Linked DNA regions of Homo sapiens. The protein of the gene in region 4 purifies or fractionates together with the protein of the main gene of each other region. This does not show direct contact. Each region holds a gene or a part of one and is shown on either strand. Other genes may lie near its edges.

The links. The genes of interacting proteins can lie anywhere in the genome.
Region 1: the proteins of IL22RA2 (region 4) and CTPS2 purify together in Homo sapiens (affinity purification with mass spectrometry; one large-scale study listed by BioGRID and IntAct). This does not show direct contact.
Region 2: the proteins of IL22RA2 (region 4) and GAS6 purify together in Homo sapiens (affinity purification with mass spectrometry; one large-scale study listed by BioGRID and IntAct). This does not show direct contact.
Region 3: the proteins of IL22RA2 (region 4) and TBC1D31 purify together in Homo sapiens (affinity purification with mass spectrometry; one large-scale study listed by BioGRID and IntAct). This does not show direct contact.

The regions. Positions count from the first base shown.
Region 1 is NC_000023.11:16,688,436-16,692,322, reverse strand, and holds part of CTPS2 (CTP synthase 2), read left to right. Parts: intron 1-702; coding exon 703-783; intron 784-2,721; coding exon 2,722-2,873; intron 2,874-3,887. UniProt on the Homo sapiens protein: Catalyzes the ATP-dependent amination of UTP to CTP with either L-glutamine or ammonia as the source of nitrogen. Constitutes the rate-limiting enzyme in the synthesis of cytosine nucleotides.
Region 2 is NC_000013.11:113,819,815-113,823,215, forward strand, and holds the end of GAS6 (growth arrest-specific protein 6 precursor), read right to left. Parts: intron 2,373-3,401; coding exon 2,144-2,372; intron 1,205-2,143; coding exon 1,050-1,204; 3' UTR 735-1,049; downstream 1-734. UniProt on the Homo sapiens protein: Ligand for tyrosine-protein kinase receptors AXL, TYRO3 and MER whose signaling is implicated in cell growth and survival, cell adhesion and cell migration.
Region 3 is NC_000008.11:123,128,054-123,131,940, forward strand, and holds part of TBC1D31 (TBC1 domain family member 31), read left to right. Parts: intron 1-192; coding exon of another isoform or gene 193-227; coding exon 228-460; intron 461-1,012; coding exon 1,013-1,165; intron 1,166-2,144; coding exon 2,145-2,280; intron 2,281-3,887. UniProt on the Homo sapiens protein: Molecular adapter which is involved in cilium biogenesis. Part of a functional complex including OFD1 a centriolar protein involved in cilium assembly.
Region 4 is NC_000006.12:137,167,040-137,170,926, forward strand, and holds part of IL22RA2 (interleukin-22 receptor subunit alpha-2 isoform 1 precursor), read right to left. Parts: intron 1-3,887. UniProt on the Homo sapiens protein: Isoform 2 is a receptor for IL22. Binds to IL22, prevents interaction with the functional IL-22R complex and blocks the activity of IL22 (in vitro). May play an important role as an IL22 antagonist in the regulation of inflammatory responses.

The DNA of each region.
Region 1 (3,887 bases), on a different chromosome or scaffold from region 4:
ACTAATTTTTGTGTGGTGTGTGTGTGTGTGTGTGTGTGTGTTTGTAGAGACAGGGTTTTGCTATGTTACTGAGGCTGGTCTCGAACTCCTGGGTTCAACCAATCCTCCTGCCTTGGCCTCCTAAAGTGCTGGGATTGCACCACGCCCAGTCCGCTGCTCTTATTTTTAGTCTAAACAGTGATGTGTCCTTATAGCAGGTGATCCAGTCATCACCAGTAGTCTCTGTCAGAGGTTGACAAATAACAGCCCACAACTTGCTTGCCTGTTTTTGTAAGTAAAGTTTTATTGGCATGCAGTCACACCCATTCATTTACATATTGTCTGTAGCTGCTTTCACACTGCACCTCAATTGAGGATCAGGACAGTGACTGTGTCACCTGCAAACCTAAAATATTTCCCATCTGGCCCTTTTGAGAAAAAGTTTGTTAACCCCGATCTAGCTCTTTTCTTGTAGTTAATGAAGCAACACTTGTGAGCCTGGACTCTGTTCACCAGAGACGTCTCGATGTTTCGAGTTCTTACTGATACACTTATGCTGAATTTGATTATACTTATATTAGTGCTCAGACCAATTTCTAATAGTCCAGTGGAATGTCCAAAGTGAACAAGTACATACTTGGCCAAGTTTCTTGTAAAAAGAAATGAATGTGGCATCCTGCTGAAAGTGAATCCTGTTTGCTGAAGCATAACTGGCTTTGACAGATTGTCTGCCGAAGTTCAACGCCCATTGAGATGGCCGTGAAGGAGAAGATTTCTATGTTTTGTCACGTGAACCCTGAACAGGTTGGTGCTGCTCTTTAGATTTTATTGTCTGGCAGGCACTTCTGCTGATGCCAGTGTTTTGTACCTCTTCAATGATCATATTACTTTTCACGGCATTTATGCAAGCACTGGGGAACCCTGATCCAACCATGATTCCCTAGCCCTTAAGTGAGATAGGATGCATGTTTCTTTGCATGATCACTCAACTTATGTCACAAAACCAGGGTGGGCTTTCTTTTCTTGAGACAGAGTGTCACTCTGTCACCCAGGCTGGAGTGCAGTGGCATGATCTCAGCTCACCGCAACCTCTGCCTCCTGGGTTCAAGCAATTCTCTTATTTTAGCCTCCTGAGCAGCTGAGATTATAGGCATGCGCCACCACGCCTGGCTAATTTTTTTGTATTTTTAGTAGAGATGGGGTTTTGCCATGTTGGCCAGGCTGGTCTCGAACTCCTGACCTCAGATGATCCGCCCGCCTCAGCCTCCCATAGTGCTGGGATTACAGGCGTGAGCCATCGTGCCCAGTACCAGGGTGGGTGTTTAACTCACAGTCAAACCTCTAGAGAGAGAACCACATGAAGCCTACTTATCATCTCTTTATCTTGTGTTTCCTTCTGGAACACTTACTGCTTTCACTCATTTCTCCTCTCTACCTGTGGCAGCTTAAGTCACCCCAAACACACGAGCACGTTGACATTCGCACTAGCTCTTCTGACTCCATCAGTGGGCTCAGTTGACTTCATTGGTACAGAAACTGTACTGTGATTTGGGCTTAGGTTCTCTGCTCTGTAGGGCTTTCCACCTTGGTATTCTGATAATTCGCTTTTCTTTTTTCTTTCCTTCTCTCATCTCTGTCTCTTGATTCCAATAAGGCTTGGTTATAAGGGATTGGAGTTACCTATAGTTTAAAGAGAGTGATATAAATGGTGCTCAGGAAAAGGGTGAGGTTTGGCAGAAATCTTTTCTTCAGATTATAACTCTGGGTTCTCTGAAGTCTAAAAATGATCAAATTGAATTTTGGCATCTTGGAAAATAGTCTGATGGAGAGCCCCCTGCCTGATGCCTCAGAGTCATTGCCGAAGTCTGAACTACTTTGAAAAATGTGATGGCAGATTGAAGGGACACTTCTGCATCTGTATGTTGATATGTTGTCATGCCATTTTGTTTGCGTCCAATCTTTTTTTTTTTTTGAGACAGAGTTTCACTATTGTCACCCAGGCTGGAATGCAGTGGTGCACTCTTGGCTCAGTGCAACCTCTGCCTCCTGGGTTCAAGCGATTCTCCTGCCTCAGCCTCCTGAGTAGCTGGGATTATAGGTGTGTGTCACCATGCCTGGCTAATTTTTGTATTTTTAGTAGAGATGGGGTTTCACCATGTTGGCCAGGCTGGTCTTGAACTCCTGACCTCAGATGATCCGCCTGCCTCAGCCTCCAAAAGTGCTGGAATTACAGGCGTGAGCCACCACACCTGACCTGTCCAATCGTTTTGTGTACACTTCTTTTTTTTTTTTGAGATACAGTCTTGCTCTGTCACCCAGGCTGGTATGCAATGGTGCGATCTCGACTCACTGCAACCTCCGCCTCCTGGGTTCCAGCGATTCTCCTGCGTCAGCCTCTTGAGTTGCTGGGATTATAGGCACATGTCACCATGCCCAGCTAATTTTTGCATTTTTAATACAGGTGGGGTTTCACCATGTTGGTCAGGCTGGTCTCGAACTCCTGACATCAGGTGATCTGCCCGCCTCGGCCTCCCATAGTGCTGGGATTAGTTTTCTAATTAAATGAAGCTAACCTTGTGCAAATTCTGATGCTAGCTTTGGTTGCTGGGTTTTTGTGTGTGCGTGTGTGTGTGTTATATCAGTGTAAATAAACTGCCAGTCTCTGCTGAATTTTGTTTCATTCTTGTGGTGGCATATTTGAATAGATCCATCTAAGTATGGTGATTTCTCATCGCCACTTAGGTCATATGTATCCATGATGTTTCTTCCACATACCGAGTTCCTGTGCTTTTAGAGGAACAAAGCATTGTGAAATATTTTAAGGAGAGATTGCACCTGCCCATCGGTGATTCTGCAAGTAATTTGCTTTTTAAGTGGAGAAATATGGCTGACAGGTAAGCGAAAGGAATTACTTGTATAATCTTTAATAATTTTTGAGTTTGGGGGTAGAACTAAGACCTACTTGAAAGGGTAAGCGTGTGTATTTGGCATTTTGCGTGTGCACATTTTGGTCTGGATATGTCTAAAGATGGAGCATACTGTTGCGGTGCTTTGCTGTATTATTTGAAGATTTCTGGAGCCTTTGATTTTGTTATACATAAACCAAAGTGAATTAAAGGAATTCGAATTCTGGAAGGAATGTTTTTTTAGCTCTGGAAGGATTCTGATTTATTTGATTTATTTGCTAGTTCATTTTTTAGTTTCTGAATATTTAAAATTTTTTTTTGTTTGTTTTCTTTTTTCTTTTTTGAGAGTCTTGCTCTGTCACCCAGGCGGGAGTGCAGTGGCACGATCTCGGCTCACTGCAACCTCCACCTCCTGGGCTCAAGTCATCCTCCCACTTCAGCCTCCTGAGTAGCTGAGACTAGAGGCACACACCACCACACCCGGCTAATATATATTTTTTTTTTTTTGTAGAGACGGGATTTTTCTATGTTACCCACACTGGTCTTGAACTCCTGGGCTCAAGTGATCTGCCCACCTTGGCCTCCCAAAGTGCTGGGATTATAGGCATGAGCCACCATGCCTGGCCTTAAACAGTTTTAAACTTCACAGGTTTTTTGTTTTGTTTTGTTTTGCTTGTTTTTAAGATTTGGCTAACTTTTCCTAAAGAAAATCATTTTGGATGGGAACTTTTGGCTATGCTAGTTTTGTTTCATCCTGCATTCATTAACTGTTCAGCATAATTATTAAAACTCCTGATGGATTCTAACTTTCAGACAAGTATATTAATTTAAGCAAAGTTTCTCTATTTTGAAGTTATATGAAAATTAAGCTGTGTGCAGTGGCACTTACCTGTAGTCTCAGCTACTTGGAAGGCTGAGGTGAGAGGATCACTTGAGCCCAGGAGTTGGAGGCCAGCCTGAGCAACATAGCGAGACCCTGTATCTTAAAAAAAAAAAAAAAGG
Region 2 (3,401 bases), on a different chromosome or scaffold from region 4:
GCTGCGGCTCCGACATCCTTCCAGGAGGCAGGCAGGGTCCCGACTGCATTTCAGGCACCTGCCTGGCCGCGTTCCGGCTGCCCTGACCTTCCCTGCAGACTTGTGGCCTGCTGGGGTCAGAGAGCACCAGTGACCGCTCCACCCCTTGCAGACAAGGAAGCTGAGGCTGAGGGACATGGGGACCCTGCCAGTGGGGACGCGGGAAGCAGGGCTGGCTTTGCTCCTGGCAAGCTCTACCCCAGACCGACACAGAGAAAGCAGTTTCCCTTTCTCAACAGAACACACTTGAGGCCCGGAAGCAAGTGGATCTGTGCAGGAGGGTGGGGACGGGAATGGCACAGGGGTGCAGGCGCTGCCTCGGTGTCTTCCGGCCCTCGGTCCCAGCTCGGGGTCCCTCCCAGGTTGGCTCAGAGGCCGCTGCCCCAGCAGCCTGCATTTGTGTGCCAAGCCCTCCTCACTCAGCAATGACTGGCTGCCTGTGGTGGGGGCCGAGCAGGGCGTTCTCCGCATTTACAGAACAAGTAAACTGAGGCTCCAGCCCCTGCCGCCACTACCAGAGGAGTCAGAGGCTCCTGGGGAGCAGACCGTGGCTGCCCAACCAGGCTGGGAGCAGAAAAGAGGGAGGGATCTTTGGAGCGGCTGAGGGTGCGGCCTGGAGCCCTGGCAGCCCCGCTCATCCCAAACGCTGCTACGTGTGCAGAACCCCGCGGGGAGCAGATGACGGCCACGCGGTGTTACAAAGCTTTCTGTAAATATTTTATTTTCCATATTTTAGAGTCAGAAAGAAGCGCTTGGTAATAAAAATAATAGAGAATTATTTTCTTCGAGCCCGCTCTGCGCTGCGCCGGCCTCCCCGCGCCCGGGCCCACGGCTGAGTGCGCGGCGTCAGAGGCCCCAAGTCCATCTCACTATTTACAGATATGTTACAGGCCGGGATGGTCACAGAGGAAAGCCCAGCTCTCAGCATGGCCCCACGTGGTGAGGAGCCCCCAGGCTCCTCCCGGCTGTCTCGGACAGAGACTGAGAAGCCTGCCGCGTCCCGTGGGGGCCTAGGCTGCGGCGGGCTCCACGGGGGGGCAGGAGTGGGCCGTGATGTCGCTGTGCTTGTACGCCGCCTCGTCCAGGTCCAGCAGCCTCCGGTTGACCTCCAGTGTCATGCAGCCGCGGTAGAACGCGGTGACTGGCGCTGAAGTCACCGGCACATCTGGGCCGCAGGGAGAGAACAACATATCTTAGCTCACCACGTGGCCGGCCCCGCCTGGCCCCCCCACCCCCGGCAGCGCTTGTGGCCAGCCCCGGGTTCCCTCCGAAAGGGCAGGGTTTCCCTTTCTTCTCTAACTTCTCGGTCCCCGTTCGTTTGGCCGCAGACCCGGCAGACAAGCAGGAGGCATCTGCCAGCCTGGGCTCTGCAGACGCCAGCCCTCCCTTCCCCGCTGGGAGCACAGACAGTCCCATCGGTTAAACGTGATCTTCTTCTGTGCCCAGTGAGTCATTCAGGCTGCAGGCCTCCTGGCTCGCTCTCATCCTCTTCAAAGCTCTGTTTATTAAAACTAAGTGGAGTCTGTGTCTGGCAGCCAAGAGAGAAATCCTGCCGTTTGCCGCAAGTGAAAACCTGCGGGCAGCCGAGGACTTGCCGGCTCCCACGTGCCTTTCCGCTGACCCTCCCAGCTCATGGCAAGGACATCCCCGGTCCCAGCCTCTGTGCTGTGTAGCCCATGGGACACGGCAGGACGCCCTGCTGGACATGGGAGGGGCTGGCGGTCACTCTGTTCGCTGCTAACAGCTGCGGTGACAGCCGCGGGTCCCAACTGCAGCCTGGCCCGAGGTCTGCCCAGCCCTCTCCCCCGGGGCTGGTCTGATGGGTGTGGACGAATGCTCCCTGAAGATGCAGGTTCGTGGGGCCTGACTCAGGCCAATGCCGGCCCCCGTACGTGTTTCTCAGTCTCAGCCAATGACCTGACCAGCACCGAGACACCATAATAGCCACTAACGACCCACCTGGACTTCTCCTTCCTCTTAAAACACAAGTCCTCTTCCGCATTCACTACCAGAAACCCCAGCCTGTCCAGGTTAGATCTGGGGTGACCAAGCTGGGCCTCCCTGGAGCTCTTCACCCGGGTTGAGCGGAGCAGGGAGCACCTACCTGGCAGGCCGCCAGCAAAGGTGAGCACGGGGCTCCGCAGGTGCCTCTCGAGCACGGCCAGCCTCTCCTGCAGCTGCGCGGCGCTCACCTCGCTCTGGCCCCTGGTGCCGTCCACCTCCAGGGTGGCCTCACCGTCCCTCAGCGAGACGGTGACCACGTGCTCTTGGCCGTCGCAGACCTTGATCTCCATTAGGGCCAAGGCCGTATGCTCCACGGCCAGGACCACCAGCTGCAGGAGACCGAGGTGTGGTCAGGGCCTGCCGGCCACCCCTACGTGAGCTGTTAGGTCCAAGCTGGTCCTCACAGCTGCTGGCCACCCCTACGCCGCACGCCTGTCTCCGTCCAGGGTTCCCTGCAGCCCTGGGTCTGGATGCTCGCTGACTGTGGATGACACCCCCACCCCACCTGGGGCTCAGCTTCTCTGCACGTAAAGCCAGGGGCCAGCCTGGGAGGCTGTGGGGGAACAAGTGTGGCCCCCAGGTTGGGTGTGAGAGGGTCAACCCCAGCCCCAGGCACCAGGCACACACAAGACCGAGGCTGCACTTGACCAGGAACTGGGGTGGCCCTGATGGGGACCCAGGACCCAGCCCTGCGGTGGCGGCCTCCCAGCCCGGTGGGCACTCACGCTGGCACCACAGCCCAGCAGCCCAGGGGTCGGCTGTTGCTACATAACAGCAGCTGTTTATTCCAGATGCTGAGATTGGGTCTGGCCCTGGTAACGAGCATTTGCATGAACCAAGCCTGTCTGTCGTATCCCAGCAAGCGGGAGGGCTCTGTGGCCCCGGGGTGGGCAGACTTGGAGAACGTGAGCCTCTCTGGTTTGACCCATGTCTCCCTCCTTAGCACACGAGCGAGAGAATAAAAGCTGTTTCTGTCACCTCTTGATTGTTCTGTGGGGAAAACAGCATGAGTCCCCCAGCCCAGGACAGCTGACTTATTGTGAGGACCGGGGGTGGGGGGACCTTGTCCAAGGGGCAGCTGCACTCAGCTCCACCCGGTGTCCCCCACGGAAAGACGCTGTTGGGGGACCGGCCAAGGTCACAGATCCGACTTTTCCAGGGAAATTGGAAAACTGAGTTTGTTGCTGAAATCATCTGACTTAAACACCAGAGACTAATTCAGATTGCTGTGAGCCACCATCTGCCCAACCGAACAGGGGAAAAGCTCCCACACTGTGAGCCGAGTGTGGCTCGCAGGCGCCGGCCCCCTCAGCTGTGTGGCGGTGACCTGGTGTCCAAACAACCCCCGCAGCCCGAAG
Region 3 (3,887 bases), on a different chromosome or scaffold from region 4:
CTTCATTTTTTAATTTTATGTCAGAATTTCTTATGATTGTGAAACTCTTACATTTTTTAAATAAATTGTCTTTGTTGTAAAACTTGAGTAAAGAAAAGCTTTAATGAATTTGCAAAAAAATATATATTCTTAAAGATAGATACACTTTTTTTAAATTCTTGTTTTAATTCTACCTCATAATTGCTTTGTCAGGTAAATCTCGATTTAAACACCAAGTTTTCTTACAGTTTTTTTTTCACCATCGGAATAACCTGGATATAAATGTTGTGATTAGACAAGTTTATCATCTCATGGAGACCACGCCTACTGACATTCATCCAGACAGCATGCTTAATGTTTTTGTTGCACTGACAAAAGGGCAGTATCCAGTATTTAATCAATATCCAAAGTTTATTGTGGACTATCAAACACAGGAACGAGAAAGAATAAGGAATGATGAATTGGATTACTTAAGAGAGAGGTAATTATGGAATAGTTTTTCTTTTTCTGATACAATGAAATATGTTATAAACATAAGAAAGTTTTAATGAAAAATACATTTGGCTGAGCGCGGTGGCTCACGCCTATAGTCCCAGCACTTTGGGAGGCCAAGGCAGGTAGATCACAAGGTCAGGAGTTCGAGACCAGCCTGGCCAACATGGTGAAACCCCGTCTCTACTAAAGATACAAAAAATTAGCCAGGCATGGTGGCACGCCCCTGTAGTCCCAGCTACTCAGGAAGCTGAGGCAGGAGAATCACTTGAACCCAGGAGGAGGAGGTTGCAGTGAGCGGAGATCATGCCATTGCACTCCAGCCTGGGCGACAGAGTGAGACTTCATCTCAAAAAAAAAAAAATGCATTTAAATTATGAGTATTTGTGTAAAATCAGAGTTTGAAGGCTAGAAATATTAAAGATAGTTAATTCTTGCATATGGAAATAAAATAGATTATACATTAATCGGTATACATTTTGTGTTTTGATGATTCTTAGCTTTCTTCTTTGTGTTTTCATAATAATATTACCTACTTAAGGCAGACAGTTGAAGATATGCAAGCTAAAGTCGACCAGCAAAGAGTTGAAGATGAAGCTTGGTACCAGAAACAGGAGCTGCTTCGTAAAGCTGAAGAAACAAGAAGAGAAATGCTCTTACAAGAGGAGGAGAAAATGATACAACAAAGACAGAGGTATGTGTTATCACTTTAAAAAAAAATCTGGACATATAAGTTAGTTGAATAATTTTTATGTTCTTTCATTTTTTCATTTTAGAAACAACATTATATATAGGATTACCCAGCTGTAGCATTTCTATAAAGCAACTATTAAGTTAATAAAAAGAATCTTTATATACCACTTTTCAAAAAAAATTGCTATGTAGTAAAATGTAATTCTGAAGCTATGCTGAATATAATATAGCTTTGCATGGATTAATGTTCCTTGAAGGACATTATTTAGAAACATTATTCTATAGTGGGCAGAAATGCTTTGTAATAGAATGCTAGGTACATCACCTTTAGTAGAGTATAATTTTTTTAATTGTGTTTTAAACATACCTGTGTGACCTGACAGTTGTAACATAGAATGATTATGTCATTACCCATTTAACACTTTGGAGGACAGGGGAATGAGTATTAAATGCGTATTCAAAAGTACGTTAGCTGGGTGTGGTGCCACATACCTATAGTCCCAGCTACTAGGTAGGATCACTTGAGCCCAGGAGGTCAAGGCCAGCCTGGGCAACATAGTGAGACCCTGTCTCTTAAAAAATAAAAAGAAAAAACTTAAAAATAAATACATAAAAGTATGTTAATAAGGTAAAATGTGTAAATTAAGTAAAGTAATGGGATAAACATTGAGACTAAGCCCAATAGTTGGGAAACTCACTTCTGTGTTTATTGATTCCTATTCTTAGATGGAACTTTATGTAACAGATTTATAGTGTGGGTTAAAAGGAATTACTGAACTGAGCCAGTGAGCTTTCTACTAAAATTCTTAAAGCATAAGTATACATCATCTTTGGTAACGGTGGAGCAGTTCTCGCATTCTTCTTTCAAATAAAGGATATCAATTGTATTGAAATGATCAGCATGGCAGACCTGTTATGAAAAAACTAAATCATATTAGGAATTGCTGTATTTGTTCCACTTGATGTATTTTGTATTTAAGGCTAGCTGCTGTGAAAAGAGAGCTGAAAGTAAAGGAAATGCACTTACAAGATGCTGCAAGAAGGCGTTTTCTGAAGCTTCAGCAAGATCAACAGGAAATGGAACTAAGAAGACTGGATGATGAAATTGGGAGAAAGGTTTATTATTCTTAACTTAGTTCTCATACATCATCTCCATTTACTCTCACTTAAATGTAATGAACACCTTCAAATTAAATAATATTCTTAGAGTCCACCATGAATACTAAATAGCCGCTTTAATTTTATTTACTTTTCCCCTCAGCTTTCTCATTCTCTTTTGTATTTCATGAATGGCTAAATATTTAAGAAATGCCAGGAAAATTAGTCAAGTGTCCTTGGTGACTATTTCTCTAAAACTAGAAATATCAGTATCAGTTAGCCATTAAGTTATTTTTTCTTTTCTTTTCTTTTTTTTTTTTTTTTGAGACAGAGTCTTGCTCTGTTGCCCAGGCTGGAGTGCAGTGGCGTGACCTCAGCTCAGTGCAACCTCCGCCTCCCGGGTTCAAGTGATTCTCCTGCCTCAGCCTCCCAAGTAGCTGGGATTACAGGTGCACGCCACCACACCCAGCTAATTTTTGTATTTTTCTTAGAGACGGGATTTCATCATGTTGGCTAGGCTGATCTCAAACTCGTGACCTCAGGTGATCTGCCCACCTTGGCCTCCCAAAGTGCTGGGGTTACAGGCGTGAGCCACCAAGCCCGGCAGTTAATTTTTAATTAGGGGACATATTCTTTTTTCATATAAAAATTATCTGTGGCCAGTATAAAAATAATTTCCAGTACAAAACATACAGAATTAAAAATTGACCTTCTCCATTAGTTCTCATGTCATCCCCAGAGAAACACTATTAAAAAATGGTTAATTGGCTGGGTGCGGTGGCTCATGCCCGTAATCCCAGCACTTTGGGAGGCCGAGGCAGGCAGATCACCTGAGGTCAGGAGTTCGGAACCAGCCTGGCCAACATGGTGAAACCCTGTCTCTACTAAAAATACAAGAATTAGCTGGGCATGGTGGCAGGCGCTTGTAATCCCAGCTACGCAGGAGGCTGAGGCAGGAGAATTGCTTGACCCTGGGAGGTGGATGCTGCAGTGAGCCGAGATCATGCCACTGCACTCCAGCCTGAGCGACAGAGTGAGACTCAGTCTCAAAAAAAAAAAAAAAAAAAAAAAGGTTAATTACATAGACTTTCAGGTATGTTCTATAGATAGAGGAGTAATTATAGTCATGTTTTCCTATATTTATACAAAAATGGGATTATTCTCATTATACATTGTTTTTGTAACCTGCTTTTTAAAATTTCATATGCTGAATATCTTTTCATATTTGTTATATGTGTATCTATTTCTCTTTTTGTGGTTGTATAATATTCCATTGAATTAATAGCTTATTTAATCCTTTGCTATTGGACATTTCGGTTATTTGCAGTGTTTTGCAAATTACAAAACCATGCTACATTGTAAAAGTCTTTGAGTACTTGCACACATACTTTTGTTGAGTAACTTCTAAATTATGACAAATTGTTCTCTAAAAATGAAACAGTTTCAGCTGTTTTAAGTCTGTAAGAGTACCCACTCCCTAGTATAGTCAATTGTACTGCATCAGTCTTAATATTTGCCAAGCAGATAGATGACAAATCGTCTATTTTAATTTGCCTTTTTTTATTGTTAGTGAGGTTAAGTATCTTTTCTGTTACTTATCTTCCATGTGTAGAATTACACATTAC
Region 4 (3,887 bases):
CCAGGACAAAGAAAGCTCGGGAAGTAACCAGAATCTTACTAAAGGACATTATTCCTAGATTTCGACTGCCTCTAACTTTAGGATCAGACAATGGCCCAGCATTTGTGGCAGAAATAGTACAACAGCTAACACAGAGGTTAAAAATCAAATGAAAACTGCATACAGCTTATCACCCATAGAGTTCTGGAAAGTTGAAAGAATAAACCGGACACTCAAACAGCCGTTAAAAAAGTTTTGCCATGAAACTCATCTAAGATGGGATCAGGTGCTGCCCATGGTCCTTCTCTGAGTCAGGTGCACCCCTACTAAATTAACTGGGTATTCACCCTATAAGATAGTGTTTGGCCGACACCCTGATCATAACTCAGATAAACGGGGATTTAAAAAATTGGGGAATTAACCTTAAGAAGGCAAATGCAAGCCTTAGGTGAGGTCTCGCAGGAAATGCAAGGATGGGTAAGAGAAAGAATACCTGTTAGCCTCACAGATGCAGTACAACCCTTCTAACCTGGAGACTCTGTCTGGGTCAAACAATGGAACCCAACCACTTTAGGGCCTTTATGGGATAGTCCCCATATTGTGATCTTGTCTACTCCCACTGCTGTTAAAGTTGCAGGTATCATACCTTGGGTTCATCATAGCCGGCTGAAACCAGAAGCAGCCACCACCCAGGACCAGTGGACAAGTCAACAAAACCCAGACCACTCAACATGGCTGATCCTGTGGTGAAACCAAGCCACTGCTGACAAGGACAACTGCCCTGCTTCAACCACACCAGAGGCTGGTTGGTCCACGCACGGCTGAAGCTTGAGGAAACATCGAGCCCTGTTCTAGTCACACAAATGGAAGCTGACTAGTCTATGCATGGCTGAAGCCTGAGGAAGTCAATGATACATAAGTAAATGTAGACTAAATTTACAAACATAGTTATACTCTTACTTGTAGTAATTATTTTGCTGTCATGTTATCTTTGCAAATGCTGCCAAGCTTGTTGCCCAGAAAGGTGCCCATGCATAGTATAAGTTTAATCATATTAGTAATACTGAAGCCACTGACACTTTCACCTATGGTTATAAAAGGGGACCAGGATGACTGTCATCACTGTATGATAGAAGCCTGGTCTGGAAAAGGTGTGACTAAAACTCTGTTATACCAGACCTACTATGAGTGTACAGGGACTCATACAGGAACTTGTTGTTTATAACCAGACTAATTACTCAGTCTGTGATCCTGGAAACGGGCAGCCCCAAATATGTTATGACCCAGAGTTCTTGCCCTATGACTTCTTATTTGAAGTCCAAATTTGGTGAACCCCTAATGCCATCATATACAAACCCCACAGAAACTGGGGTCAGTAAACTTGTAAACAAAACGCAAGTATTCACTTACGCGCATAAAGGGCCCGTCTCCATATATTTTGATGCCTGCCAAGCTGCACATCTCAGTAAACTAAATAATATTTGGACCATCTGTAAAAATCTAGGACAAGAAAGAGTCAGCAGCAGAGCCACCAAGGCCATAATAGGAGAGTCCGAAAAAGAGTGCCCTGATTGTGATAATCAGTGGACCACACATGAATTTAATCAGCACCTATACACTGGAAGGGCTGCTCTGTTTGCCAGCCAAGAGGAGAAGATAGGGTACACAACTGGAACATGCTACCCACTCAATCTGACAATACTAAAGCCAAATATGACTTTCTGGACTAAAGGGCATAAAGGATTACTAACCTTTGATCAGGCAGGAGCTCTCCTAGGACTTGGTATTCCTCTGGTCATCACAAAGAAAACCCAAAGGACTCAAGTTCAACTTAGCCCAATACAACAGTTCAGGTTTTATAAATCTTTCAATGAACACTTTAATTCTGAAGTATCAAAAATTCAAATTCCTCCTATATCAACTGAAAATCTGTTTGTCCAGCTAGCCAAAAGTATTGCTAACAATTTAGGAGTTACTTCCTGTTATGTATGTGGAGGTGCTAATATGAGAGATCAATGGCCCTGGGAAGCCAGAGAATTGATGCTGCAAGACAATTTTACCTTGCCTGAATTTGTTACAAAATTCAATGCAAATCCAAGTGTTTGGCTATTAAGGAACCCCATCATTGGAAAATACTGTATTGCCTGTTGGGGCAAGTCCTTTCAGAACCAGATAGGGGAAACAACTTGCCTAGGTCAACAATATTTTGAAGAATCTGAGAACAGAACACAATGGAGAAGCTTTATAGATGATTCCTCTGTGTCACTTTAATCCCTTTTTGCAGTTCCCAACACTAAATCAATCATGGTACCAATTAGAAGCTCCAACTGTTTGGAGAGCACCTGCAGGATTATATAGGATCTGTGGAACAAAGGCTTATCAATTACTAACCGATAAATGGACAGGGGCATGTATATTAGGAACAATAAGGCCATTCTTTTTGCTACTCCCCCTGCAGCAAGGGGAAGATCTAAGCTATCTGGTCTATGATGAAGGCAGAAAAAGAGTCAAAAGAAATGTGTTTACAAAAATAAGTACTGAGGAAAAAATAAATACTAACATTAAAAAGGACATTGAAATAGGGGGCTGGAAAGATAATGAATGGCCCCCTGGGCACAAGATGGGTCATGGGGATACTGTACTCCTATTTATATGTTAAACCACATCATAAGGTTGCAAGCAGTTCTGGAAATTATAGTCAATGAAACAGCCTGAGCCTTAGACTTGCTAGCCATACAGGCAACCCAGATGAGAGATGCCATTTATCAGAACAGGTTAGTACTGAATTATGTTTTAGCTTCAGAAGGGGGTTTGTGGAAAACTTAATTTAACAAATTGCTGCTTACAAATTGATGACAATGGAAAAGCTGTCATGGAAATCACTGCCAGGATGCGGAAGTTAGCTCATGTTCTGGTTCAGACATGGTCTGGTTGGAACCCGAGTTCACTCTTTGGAGGACGGTTTTCATGGTTTGGAGGCTTTAAAACTGTAATACTAGGCTTTGTGGCCATAAAAGGTGGATGCCTACTGCTTCCCTGTCTCTTGCCATTTCTAATCGGAAGCATCCAATCCACCATAGACTCAATGGTAGACAGACATACCACCATCCGAATAAAGGCTCTGCAAAAGTACCAACTGGTATCCCAAGATGAGTATGTACCCACTCAAGAAGAAATAGCTAACTGTGGTGCTCTTTATTAATCTACATTTGTGTCGAGCACCAAAAGGGGGAAATGAAGAAGGAATTAATGAAATCAACTATAACCTAAGAGTAGTAGTAATACAAATTTTAAAATCCTTTTAAAGTTCCTGCAAAATGTGACCCCTGCCTTACATTCACGTTAAAAGGGAATATTAACAGCCTGTCTTCTCTCTGTGGACAGTGGACCTTATCTATACTCCCCAACTCCACATTCCTCAAAGTTTATTACAGGCCCAGTGAGTTCCTGCATGACTGCAGGGTCACAAGACTGATAAGTTTAGGCTGCAAGACATGTCTTTCTCAAAATGTAACAAACGTTGTAATACTGCCTTTGTTTCTTGCTTCTGTAACTCGATTCCCGCCTCACGTAGTTCCCACCTTAAGATATTTAAAAGTAGGAAAAGCCCTTTGTTTGGGGCTCAGACTAGCTGAGCCGGTGATCACCTTAATTTAATAAACTTTCCTGAACTTTCGGTCTCTTCAGTCTTTGATCATCCCGCAACAGACCCAGGGCTTACATACCACCGGGAAAGGGCCTGCGTGATTCAGAAGGGATGTATATGACAATTGAAGTATCATAACATCAAGGTGGTTTTGACGTACAGGCAGGACTTATGACAAGTATGTGTTCTCATACAAGGAACAATCGATAAACTAGAAATCTTAGAAGCCTTCCTGAAAAAGGATTAATCAGAAGTCAACATG